Homo sapiens: one gene and its partner. The protein of the gene in region 1 interacts with the protein of each later gene in a biochemical or structural test. Each region holds a gene or a part of one and is shown in the gene's direction. Other genes may lie near its edges. The genes, in order: PPP3CC and BCL2.

Region 1 (7,293 bases):
GATACCACACCCCAGCTATTTTTGTTTCTGTCATTTCCTGTTAACTTTAAAGTGTACCTAATTGTTCTATTTGAGCAAATTTTGGAGAAGAGTGGGTATGTGGGAGAGGTTTGTATTTTAGGTGTCCTTTAAATAGCAGCTTTCTTAAATTGAAGGATGTGGCTGGGCGTGGTGGCTCACACCTGTAATGCCAGCTACTTGGGAGGCTGAGGCAGGAGAATCGCTTGAACCCAGGAGGCAGAGGCTATAGTGAGCCAAGATTGTGCCACTGTACTGTAGCCTGGGCGACAAGAGTGAAACTCAGTCTCAAGCCAAAAAAAAAAAAAAAACTCATCTGTAAAATAGGGTTAATAATACCTTCCCTGTCAAGCCTGGGTCATGCAAGTGACATAAAGCATGTGAAAAGGTCAAGTTAAGGTAGTACTTTGAGACATGATAATAGGTTGGTAATAGATCGCTTACTACAGAAGTAGTTAGTAGAGATATCATTAACATTTGAAAATATCAGAAAGTATGTGAAATTATAAGCTACAAAACTGTTCCTAGTCAGGTGAATACCTATTCTACAGCATAATGGATATGTGGGTGAAATCTCGTCGGTAACAATGTGAAGAGATCAGCACAGTTCTGTCTGGTACTCCCTAGGCAGCAGATTTCTTCTCTATCTGTTGAAGGTGTTTATTTTATGTTTAAACCTTCTTATGATTTTACTCATTCATTAAATGTTTATTGAGTGCCATCTGCAATGTACCCTAGTAGGTTGCTCATTCATTTCTTCTTTGCTTTAAAAGTAGCATTTCTGTGAGCCTTTAGAGCAGTTTATATGCACTGGGGCACCATAACTGGTATCTAAGCCAGAGAACTAGGCACCCAAATGATTAAATTGTGATATTCTGTCTGCTTTATTTTTTTTTCTAGTTTCCACGTTCCTTTTCCTGTTTAAGGACATGTTTTTTCTTTGACAGTGATTTTTATAAAAGCAGTTTATTTCCCTGGAATGAATCTTTTCAGAAGCAACAAGGAAATTTCAGTAGGAATTACATGACAAATATAGAGAATCCATTGTCTTATTTTGTTACTTTATGGCCAGATGGGGTTTAACAGAAAAGTCAGATTTCTTTTTAGTAAGGTGCTGATACATTTCTCCCTTTCTCTTAGAATTCAAATATATTGTGTATTCACAGAGTACTGTACCATTTTTACCACACATGGCAGGCTACTGTTTCTTTAATATCGTGGCACTGGGAATATTGTGCTTATGGCTTTCTTAAAATATTTTAATATTAGTGTGGACAAAAATTGCTATTTCTACAAATATACCCTAAACCCGATTTCAATCTCTGGTACCTATACTTCATTTCTTTCCACAACTCTCCCCCGACTCTCCCTTTTTTATATCCATAATGGATTTACCGAGGGTTTAAAATTTTTTCTCTTAAATATAAGCTTAATCCTGCTACTTATACAATTTGAAAATCAGAAAGGGAAGAAAAGAAAGACTTCATATTCCTTCCCAGCAGAAATAACTGCTTTTAATACCTTTGTGTGTTTCCATCTGCAGGTATATTTTGAATTCAAAGGAAAATGGATCACACATATTAAAGCTTTTGTTATGCAAATATTTCATATTATTTTAACATAAATATTGTAATTTTACCTAAATATTTCCATAATGGTTTCAATCAGCATGGAAATGGTTTTAGAGTGCTTATATTAATATTTTGGTTCTTTATATTTTCAGTGGGGACACATTAGTCACTTGATACAATACCAACCCAGAAGAAACATTTTCAAGTATAAATTTTCAATGTGAATACGTTTTAAAGTTGATATCTCCTGGATTTGTCAACAGTATTTGTTTAATTTATGCTTCATTTACCATTGTGATTAACAAGCTGCCAAACTTTTGAAACATTCAAAATCAGTGCTAATCGAGATTCATACATCTGAGTAGAAATCTGGAACCTCTGAAAGGGCATCTTAATTTAAACACTTAATTTTTTTCTTTTTGAGCAAGGATAAAGTATTCTTTCTTACCTATACGTTATTGGTTGTGATCAAAGCTTTATTTATGGTCTGACATTTGATAATTAAGCTTTCTCTCTTTTATTGCATTTTAAAATAGGATTAAAAATTTTTTTTGCCTTACGTAATTTTTAGTGTACCATAACTTTTACTGGAGTGTATATGGGAAAATGTACAAATTATAAATGTACAGCTTAGTGAGTTTTTACAAATTTAGCACCCACATACCCATGTAACCACTCAACCAAAATAAATAGATTACCAGAATCCCAGAAACAAGCATGAGTTCACGTTCAGTCCACTGGTTTCCATCCCTAAATGGGCAACAGTGGGGAAAATATGACACTTGTAACCATTATTCTGGCGTCTAACGTCATATTTGTAAAGTAACATACTAATCACATCTTACTGTAAAGTGAAAAAAACAAGGGACTCTGAGAGAAAAATGCTAAGGACTCATTACTTAAAGTGAAATAATTAATTAAAGACCTTTTCCTAAGCAGTATTTGATACTAGGAATTGAATGTCTTTCTATTAAGGTAACATTTTTGGAAAAAGCTAATTTTTAGGCCAGGCGTGGTGGCTCACGCCTATAATCCCAGTACTTTGGGAAGCCGAGGTGGGTGGATCACCTGAGGTCCGGCCAACGTGGCGAAACCCAGTCCCTATTAAAAATACAAAAATTAACTAGGCATGGTGGTGCACACCTGTAGTCCCAGCTACTTAGGAGGCTGAGGTAGGAGAATCGTTTGAATCTGGGAGGCAGAAGTTGCAGTGAACTGAGATTGCGCCACTGCACTCTAGTCTGGGTGACAGAGCAAGACTCTGTCTCAAAAAAAAAAAAAAAAAAAAAAAAAAAGCTGATTTTTAGACATGTCTCTATTAGAGACAAAATTATTCATTTAATTCCGGGATTTGTAGTCATTTTGGAACTTTGCTGCTACTTAATTGCTAAATGACTAATGGGAATAAAGGGATGTCTTAGAATCATTACCATCCTTTGGTGCAATCATTACTAGACTATAATGCCCGTTTATAGTTTTTTTTGGTGGGGGACAGGGTCTCGCTCTGTTGCCCAGGCTGGAGTACAGTGGCGCGATCATGGCTCGCTGCAGCTTCAGCTTCCTGGGCTCAGGTGATCCACCTCAGCCTCCCGAGTAGTTGGAACCACAGGCATAGCATACGCCACCGTGTCCAACTAATTTTTTTTTTTTTTTTTTTTTTGTGACAGAGTCTCGCTCTGTCGTCCAGGCTGGAGTGCAGTGGCGCAATCTCGGCTCACTGCAAGCTCTGCCTCCCGGGTTCATGCCATTCTCCTGCCTCAGCCTCCTGAGTAGCTGGGACTACAGGCACCTGCCACCATGCCCGGCTAATTTTTTTTTGTATTTTTAGTAGAGACGGGGTTTCACTGTGTTAGCCAGGATGGTCTCGGTCTCCTGACCTCGTGATCCGCCCGTCTCGGCCTCCCAAAGTGCTGGGATTACAGGCGTGAGCCACCGAGCCTGGCCTAATTTTGGTATTTTTTATAGAGGTGGAGTTTCGCCCTGTTGTTGAGGCTGGTCTTGAACTCCTGGGCTCAAGCGATCCTCTTGCCTTTGTCTCCCAAAGTGCTGGGATTACGGTGTGAGCCACTGCGCCCTGCCTTTTATAGTCTTAATGTTAAAATTTAGCAGCATTTTACATTTCAAAACTGAGGCCTAAAACTTTCAACCTAACCTAAGTGGTATCTTTCTTAGTTACCCTTATATTCTATCTGGTTATCCAGATGAATGTAGAGAGAACTTTTAGTTCCCCATATTCAATTTTGTTTTGTTGGCACTTTAGATTATCCTGAAGTCTTTTAGTTTCTTGAGTCTTCGTTTGTTGTTTGAAGAGGGTTTAACTTGGTAACCAGGATCTTTAAATTGGGCACAGAAAGATATACTGGATGGCTGGACAAGATAATGTATTTCTTTGATGATCATTACTAGATTTACTAATTGCTAACAGTTCATGAAGGTTTTTTTGCAGTGTCTAGACAATGTCAGCCCAAGAGACTGAAATTCTAAATGAACAAACACTGAGAAATATTTGAAGAATTCATTCAGTAATTACCTATGTAACATTCTTGCTAAAGGTGTTTAATTTAAGCTGAGCTTAGTTATAGTAGACAATCAGACAAATCCAGTTTGTGGGACTTTCTACAAGACAGTTGGCCTGAACTCTAAAAATTTCAAAGTGGTGAAAACGAAACGAAACAAAAAGGGCAGGAAGACTGTTCTAGATGAAAGAAGTTGAAAGAGAAATGACAGTCAAGTACAGTGTCAAGCCTGGATTAAGAAAACAAAAAACCATAGAGGACATTTTGGGGATAACTGGGAAAATTTGAATATGGTGTATATATTAGACGGTATTATACCTTTTTTTTGTTTTTTTTTTTTTTTGAGATGGAGTTTCGCTCTTGTTGCCCAGGCTGGAATGCAATAGCGTGATCTCGGCTCACCGCAACCTCTGCCTGCCGGGTTCAAGCGATTCTCCTGCCTCAGCCTCCCGAGTAGCTGGGATTACAGGCATGCACCACCGCACTGGGCTAATTTTATATTTTTAGTAGAGACGAGGTTTCTCCGTATTGGTCAGGCTGGTCTCGAGCTCCCGACCTCAGGTGATCTGCCCACCTCCGCCTCCCAAAGTGCTGGGATTACAGGTGTGAGCCACCGTGCCTGGCCTATATCATTGTTAAATGTCTTGAATGTGACTATATGGTATTATGGTTATATAGGAAAATGATCTTATTTTTAGGCAATACCTGATGAAGTATTAGTATGTTGAAATGTCGTGATTTTTGCAATTTGCTTTTAAATTGTTCAAAAAAAAATCATTTGTAGAGAAAAAAGCGAAAGTGGCAAAACATTTACTATGGTGAATCTAGGTAAGAGCATATGGGTGTTCATTTTATGATTCTTTCACTTTTTAAATAGATTTCAGTTTTTCAAAATGTAAAGTTGGGGACAGCCAGGCATGGTGGCTCTCGCCTATAGTCCCAGCTGCTTGGGAGGCTGAAGCGGGAGGATTGCTTGAGGCCAGGAGTTCCAAGGCTTCAGTGAACTATGATTGCACTACTGTGTTCCAGCTTGGGTGACACAGTGAGCACCCATCTCTATTTAAAAAAGAAAAAAAAGTTAGGGAGAAAAAAAGTACAATGAAGAAATGGCTTGGCTGGGCGCAGTGGCTCATGCCTGTAATCCCAGTACTTTGGGAGGCCAAGGCGGCTGGATCACTTGAGCTCAGGAATTCGAGACTAGCCTGGCAACATGGTGAAACCCCGTGTCTACAAAAAATATAAAAAATTAGCCAGGTGTGGTGGCCTGCACCTGTGGACCCAGCTACTTGGGAGGCTGAGGTGGGAGGATCACCTGAGCCAGGAGGTGGAGGTTGCAGGTTGCAGTGGGCCAAGATAGCGCCACACTCCAGCCTGGGTGACTGAGACCCCATCTCAAAAAAAAAAAAAAAAAAAAAAAAAGGAAATGCCTCAAAACAGCTACAGCTAGGTTTAGGAAAGGCTGTCATCATATTTGAGGATTCCATAGTGTCTTAATGGGGGAAAGCTGAAAAGAAGAAAATGAGCCTTAAAGAATATTATAGCTGATGTGAAGTGGAGGCAGCTTGTTTAGCAGAAAAAGTAGTGGTTTCAGCTGCATGATGGGGGTTAGAAAAACATACAGAAGTCAGTATGGAGAAAGAAAAGGTACTTAACTAAGAAGTAGAGAGAAGATGGGCAAACTAGAAGGGCCAGAGAACTGAAATACATAAAATGAAGAAAAAGAAGAGGGATAGTTGAAAACTGGTGGAGCAGTTGACATCAATTTCATTAATGGGACAGCAAGACTATTTTGATGACTGTTATTTTTTTCTTTTCTTTTTTTTTTTTTTTTCTGAGACAGAGTCTCGCTGTCGCCCGGGCTGGAATGCAGTGGCGCAATCTCGGCTCACTGCAACCTCTGTCTCCCGGGTTCAAGTGATTATCCTGCCTCAGCCTCCTGAGTGGCTGGGATTACAGGTGTGCGCCACCACACCCAGCTAATTTTTTTTTGTATTTTTAGTAGAGAAGGGGTTTCACCATGTTGGTCAGGCTGGTCTTGAACTCCTGACCTTGTGATCTGCCCACCTTGGTCTCCCAAAGTGCTGGGATTACAGGCGTGAGCCACCGCGCCCGGCTGTGATGACCATGTTTTAAAAACCCAAAACAAATAGACTTATAAACCTATTCTGAAATCATAGAAAATCCAAATATTACCCAGACAGTTGATGTGGAAAGTGGAATAGCTATGTTTTTAATTTTATTGAAGAGATTGAAGTGAAAAAAGGGGTGGTAGTGGGATAAAGTAAATATTAACACTAATGAGTAGAGGAGAAAAAAAGGATTTTCTAAGTGTATTTTTCATCCCTGTTAATTGCACCACTCACCCATTTAGTCACTGATTCAGATGACCAGCCTGGGAATCAGGCCAGACTCTTTCTTCTCCATTTTACTGCATGTCCAGTCCCACCAGACTAAATGCTGTGAACCTTTGGTTTGTACATATCCTCTACTTCATCCTATTCTCACACCTTTTGCTTGTGCCATTGCAGGAGCCTCTTGCTGAGACTATGTAGTCTGTCCACGCTGTCATCGTGATCTGTGAACAATATCAAGGGTCATTCTTGTGCTCAAAATCCTTCATGAGCACTTCCTGCCTGTGGGATAAACTCTTTGTTGATGGGCAGTACCCTGCATGCTAAACCTCTCTAGGCTTGTGTTCCATTTCTTCCTCCTCATTTCACAACCCTCATCCCCAACCTACTTTATTTTTATTTATTTATTTATTTATTTATTTATTTATTTATTTATTTATTTATTTATTGAGACGGAGTCTCGCTCTGTCACCCAGGCTAGAGTGCAGTGGCGCCACCACGGCTCACTGAAAGCTCCGCCTCCGGATTCACGCCATTCTCCTGCCTCAGCCTCCTGAGTAGCTGGGACTACAGCCACGCGCCACCACGCCCGGCTAATTTTTCTTTTTTTTTTTTTAATAGAGATGGGGTTTCACCGTGTTAGCCAAGATAGTCTTGATTTCCTGAGCTCATGATCTGCCCACCACGGCCTCCCAAAGTGCTGGGATTACAGGCGTGAGCCACCGCACCCGGCCCATTTATTTATTTTTGAGACAGAGTCTCACTCTGTCTCCCAGGCTGGAGTGCAGTGGCGCCATCTTGGCTCACTGCAACCTCCGCCTCCCAGGTTCAAGTGAT
Region 2 (5,217 bases), on another chromosome or scaffold:
CGATGGGAAAAATGCCCTTAAATCATAGGAAAGTATTTTTTTAAGCTACCAATTGTGCCGAGAAAAGCATTTTAGCAATTTATACAATATCATCCAGTACCTTAAGCCCTGATTGTGTATATTCATATATTTTGGATACGCACCCCCCAACTCCCAATACTGGCTCTGTCTGAGTAAGAAACAGAATCCTCTGGAACTTGAGGAAGTGAACATTTCGGTGACTTCCGCATCAGGAAGGCTAGAGTTACCCAGAGCATCAGGCCGCCACAAGTGCCTGCTTTTAGGAGACCGAAGTCCGCAGAACCTGCCTGTGTCCCAGCTTGGAGGCCTGGTCCTGGAACTGAGCCGGGGCCCTCACTGGCCTCCTCCAGGGATGATCAACAGGGCAGTGTGGTCTCCGAATGTCTGGAAGCTGATGGAGCTCAGAATTCCACTGTCAAGAAAGAGCAGTAGAGGGGTGTGGCTGGGCCTGTCACCCTGGGGCCCTCCAGGTAGGCCCGTTTTCACGTGGAGCATGGGAGCCACGACCCTTCTTAAGACATGTATCACTGTAGAGGGAAGGAACAGAGGCCCTGGGCCCTTCCTATCAGAAGGACATGGTGAAGGCTGGGAACGTGAGGAGAGGCAATGGCCACGGCCCATTTTGGCTGTAGCACATGGCACGTTGGCTGTGTGGCCTTGGCCCACCTGTGAGTTTAAAGCAAGGCTTTAAATGACTTTGGAGAGGGTCACAAATCCTAAAAGAAGCATTGAAGTGAGGTGTCATGGATTAATTGACCCCTGTCTATGGAATTACATGTAAAACATTATCTTGTCACTGTAGTTTGGTTTTATTTGAAAACCTGACAAAAAAAAAGTTCCAGGTGTGGAATATGGGGGTTATCTGTACATCCTGGGGCATTAAAAAAAAAATCAATGGTGGGGAACTATAAAGAAGTAACAAAAGAAGTGACATCTTCAGCAAATAAACTAGGAAATTTTTTTTTCTTCCAGTTTAGAATCAGCCTTGAAACATTGATGGAATAACTCTGTGGCATTATTGCATTATATACCATTTATCTGTATTAACTTTGGAATGTACTCTGTTCAATGTTTAATGCTGTGGTTGATATTTCGAAAGCTGCTTTAAAAAAATACATGCATCTCAGCGTTTTTTTGTTTTTAATTGTATTTAGTTATGGCCTATACACTATTTGTGAGCAAAGGTGATCGTTTTCTGTTTGAGATTTTTATCTCTTGATTCTTCAAAAGCATTCTGAGAAGGTGAGATAAGCCCTGAGTCTCAGCTACCTAAGAAAAACCTGGATGTCACTGGCCACTGAGGAGCTTTGTTTCAACCAAGTCATGTGCATTTCCACGTCAACAGAATTGTTTATTGTGACAGTTATATCTGTTGTCCCTTTGACCTTGTTTCTTGAAGGTTTCCTCGTCCCTGGGCAATTCCGCATTTAATTCATGGTATTCAGGATTACATGCATGTTTGGTTAAACCCATGAGATTCATTCAGTTAAAAATCCAGATGGCAAATGACCAGCAGATTCAAATCTATGGTGGTTTGACCTTTAGAGAGTTGCTTTACGTGGCCTGTTTCAACACAGACCCACCCAGAGCCCTCCTGCCCTCCTTCCGCGGGGGCTTTCTCATGGCTGTCCTTCAGGGTCTTCCTGAAATGCAGTGGTGCTTACGCTCCACCAAGAAAGCAGGAAACCTGTGGTATGAAGCCAGACCTCCCCGGCGGGCCTCAGGGAACAGAATGATCAGACCTTTGAATGATTCTAATTTTTAAGCAAAATATTATTTTATGAAAGGTTTACATTGTCAAAGTGATGAATATGGAATATCCAATCCTGTGCTGCTATCCTGCCAAAATCATTTTAATGGAGTCAGTTTGCAGTATGCTCCACGTGGTAAGATCCTCCAAGCTGCTTTAGAAGTAACAATGAAGAACGTGGACGTTTTTAATATAAAGCCTGTTTTGTCTTTTGTTGTTGTTCAAACGGGATTCACAGAGTATTTGAAAAATGTATATATATTAAGAGGTCACGGGGGCTAATTGCTGGCTGGCTGCCTTTTGCTGTGGGGTTTTGTTACCTGGTTTTAATAACAGTAAATGTGCCCAGCCTCTTGGCCCCAGAACTGTACAGTATTGTGGCTGCACTTGCTCTAAGAGTAGTTGATGTTGCATTTTCCTTATTGTTAAAAACATGTTAGAAGCAATGAATGTATATAAAAGCCTCAACTAGTCATTTTTTTCTCCTCTTCTTTTTTTTCATTATATCTAATTATTTTGCAGTTGGGCAACAGAGAACCATCCCTATTTTGTATTGAAGAGGGATTCACATCTGCATCTTAACTGCTCTTTATGAATGAAAAAACAGTCCTCTGTATGTACTCCTCTTTACACTGGCCAGGGTCAGAGTTAAATAGAGTATATGCACTTTCCAAATTGGGGACAAGGGCTCTAAAAAAAGCCCCAAAAGGAGAAGAACATCTGAGAACCTCCTCGGCCCTCCCAGTCCCTCGCTGCACAAATACTCCGCAAGAGAGGCCAGAATGACAGCTGACAGGGTCTATGGCCATCGGGTCGTCTCCGAAGATTTGGCAGGGGCAGAAAACTCTGGCAGGCTTAAGATTTGGAATAAAGTCACAGAATTAAGGAAGCACCTCAATTTAGTTCAAACAAGACGCCAACATTCTCTCCACAGCTCACTTACCTCTCTGTGTTCAGATGTGGCCTTCCATTTATATGTGATCTTTGTTTTATTAGTAAATGCTTATCATCTAAAGATGTAGCTCTGGCCCAGTGGGAAAAATTAGGAAGTGATTATAAATCGAGAGGAGTTATAATAATCAAGATTAAATGTAAATAATCAGGGCAATCCCAACACATGTCTAGCTTTCACCTCCAGGATCTATTGAGTGAACAGAATTGCAAATAGTCTCTATTTGTAATTGAACTTATCCTAAAACAAATAGTTTATAAATGTGAACTTAAACTCTAATTAATTCCAACTGTACTTTTAAGGCAGTGGCTGTTTTTAGACTTTCTTATCACTTATAGTTAGTAATGTACACCTACTCTATCAGAGAAAAACAGGAAAGGCTCGAAATACAAGCCATTCTAAGGAAATTAGGGAGTCAGTTGAAATTCTATTCTGATCTTATTCTGTGGTGTCTTTTGCAGCCCAGACAAATGTGGTTACACACTTTTTAAGAAATACAATTCTACATTGTCAAGCTTATGAAGGTTCCAATCAGATCTTTATTGTTATTCAATTTGGATCTTTCAGGGATTTTTTTTTTAAATTATTATGGGACAAAGGACATTTGTTGGAGGGGTGGGAGGGAGGAAGAATTTTTAAATGTAAAACATTCCCAAGTTTGGATCAGGGAGTTGGAAGTTTTCAGAATAACCAGAACTAAGGGTATGAAGGACCTGTATTGGGGTCGATGTGATGCCTCTGCGAAGAACCTTGTGTGACAAATGAGAAACATTTTGAAGTTTGTGGTACGACCTTTAGATTCCAGAGACATCAGCATGGCTCAAAGTGCAGCTCCGTTTGGCAGTGCAATGGTATAAATTTCAAGCTGGATATGTCTAATGGGTATTTAAACAATAAATGTGCAGTTTTAACTAACAGGATATTTAATGACAACCTTCTGGTTGGTAGGGACATCTGTTTCTAAATGTTTATTATGTACAATACAGAAAAAAATTTTATAAAATTAAGCAATGTGAAACTGAATTGGAGAGTGATAATACAAGTCCTTTAGTCTTACCCAGTGAATCATTCTGTTCCATGTCTTTGGACAACCATGACCTTGGACAATCATGAAATATGCATCTCACTGGATGCAAAGAAAATCAGATGGAGCATGAATGGTACTGTACCGGTTCATCTGGACTGCCCCAGAAAAATAACTTCAAGCAAACATCCTATCAACAACAAGGTTGTTCTGCATACCAAGCTGAGCACAGAAGATGGGAACACTGGTGGAGGATGGAAAGGCTCGCTCAATCAAGAAAATTCTGAGACTATTAATAAATAAGACTGTAGTGTAGATACTGAGTAAATCCATGCACCTAAACCTTTTGGAAAATCTGCCGTGGGCCCTCCAGATAGCTCATTTCATTAAGTTTTTCCCTCCAAGGTAGAATTTGCAAGAGTGACAGTGGATTGCATTTCTTTTGGGGAAGCTTTCTTTTGGTGGTTTTGTTTATTATACCTTCTTAAGTTTTCAACCAAGGTTTGCTTTTGTTTTGAGTTACTGGGGTTATTTTTGTTTTAAATAAAAATAAGTGTACAATAAGTGTTTTTGTATTGAAAGCTTTTGTTATCAAGATTTTCATACTTTTACCTTCCATGGCTCTTTTTAAGATTGATACTTTTAAGAGGTGGCTGATATTCTGCAACACTGTACACATAAAAAATACGGTAAGGATACTTTACATGGTTAAGGTAAAGTAAGTCTCCAGTTGGCCACCATTAGCTATAATGGCACTTTGTTTGTGTTGTTGGAAAAAGTCACATTGCCATTAAACTTTCCTTGTCTGTCTAGTTAATATTGTGAAGAAAAATAAAGTACAGTGTGAGATACTGGTTGTGCCTGGAATTGTTTATAATGTGTTAACATGATTTTGCCCTGCCATTCATCATCATTACACAAGACTTTGAAAAGCCTTCTTAACAAGCCAGTAAAATCACCAGGACCCTACTCTAATGAAGCCCTCAGGGACCAGGCTAAGGGATTGCCTTACAGGTGAAACCACCTTAGAAGGAGACTCTTGTTTCTTGGTAATAACCCTCCTGGTTAGGTACAAGATAGACCAGTCTTGAGTTCTACTCCCTGGGAGAGCTACTGTTGCTGTTGAGTGTGTTCTTCCATATAGACCAGAGATCCCAGCCTCTGCATTTTATAAGATGAAATGTGTATGAAAAAGAGGGAAATAAGCTGAAAGTTCTGTTTTGAAGTCAACATTTTTAGATGGAACCAAAGCAGCTACTTGCTTTGGAGCAGGTGAACCCTAAATGGCAAGGGATCTGATGTTTCCCACTGGGTTCAGGTCCTGATACCCTAATCCTCAACCCTTCAAGTCACATCACTTAGACTCAATTAAAAGGACTCTGATAGTAGCATTCATCTGTTGAGCACCTGCTGGATACAACACTGTATGCATACTACCTTTTGCTCTCAAACCTTTCAAGGTAGGTATTG

The links.
Region 2: the proteins of PPP3CC (region 1) and BCL2 form a complex in vitro, tested with the Homo sapiens proteins (one study listed by BioGRID).

The regions. Positions count from the first base shown.
Region 1 is NC_000008.11:22,443,949-22,451,241, forward strand, and holds part of PPP3CC (serine/threonine-protein phosphatase 2B catalytic subunit gamma isoform), read left to right. Parts: intron 1-7,293. UniProt on the Homo sapiens protein: Calcium-dependent, calmodulin-stimulated protein phosphatase which plays an essential role in the transduction of intracellular Ca(2+)-mediated signals. Dephosphorylates and activates transcription factor NFATC1.
Region 2 is NC_000018.10:63,122,730-63,127,946, reverse strand, and holds the end of BCL2 (apoptosis regulator Bcl-2), read left to right. Parts: 3' UTR 1-4,601; downstream 4,602-5,217. UniProt on the Homo sapiens protein: Suppresses apoptosis in a variety of cell systems including factor-dependent lymphohematopoietic and neural cells. Regulates cell death by controlling the mitochondrial membrane permeability. Appears to function in a feedback loop system with caspases.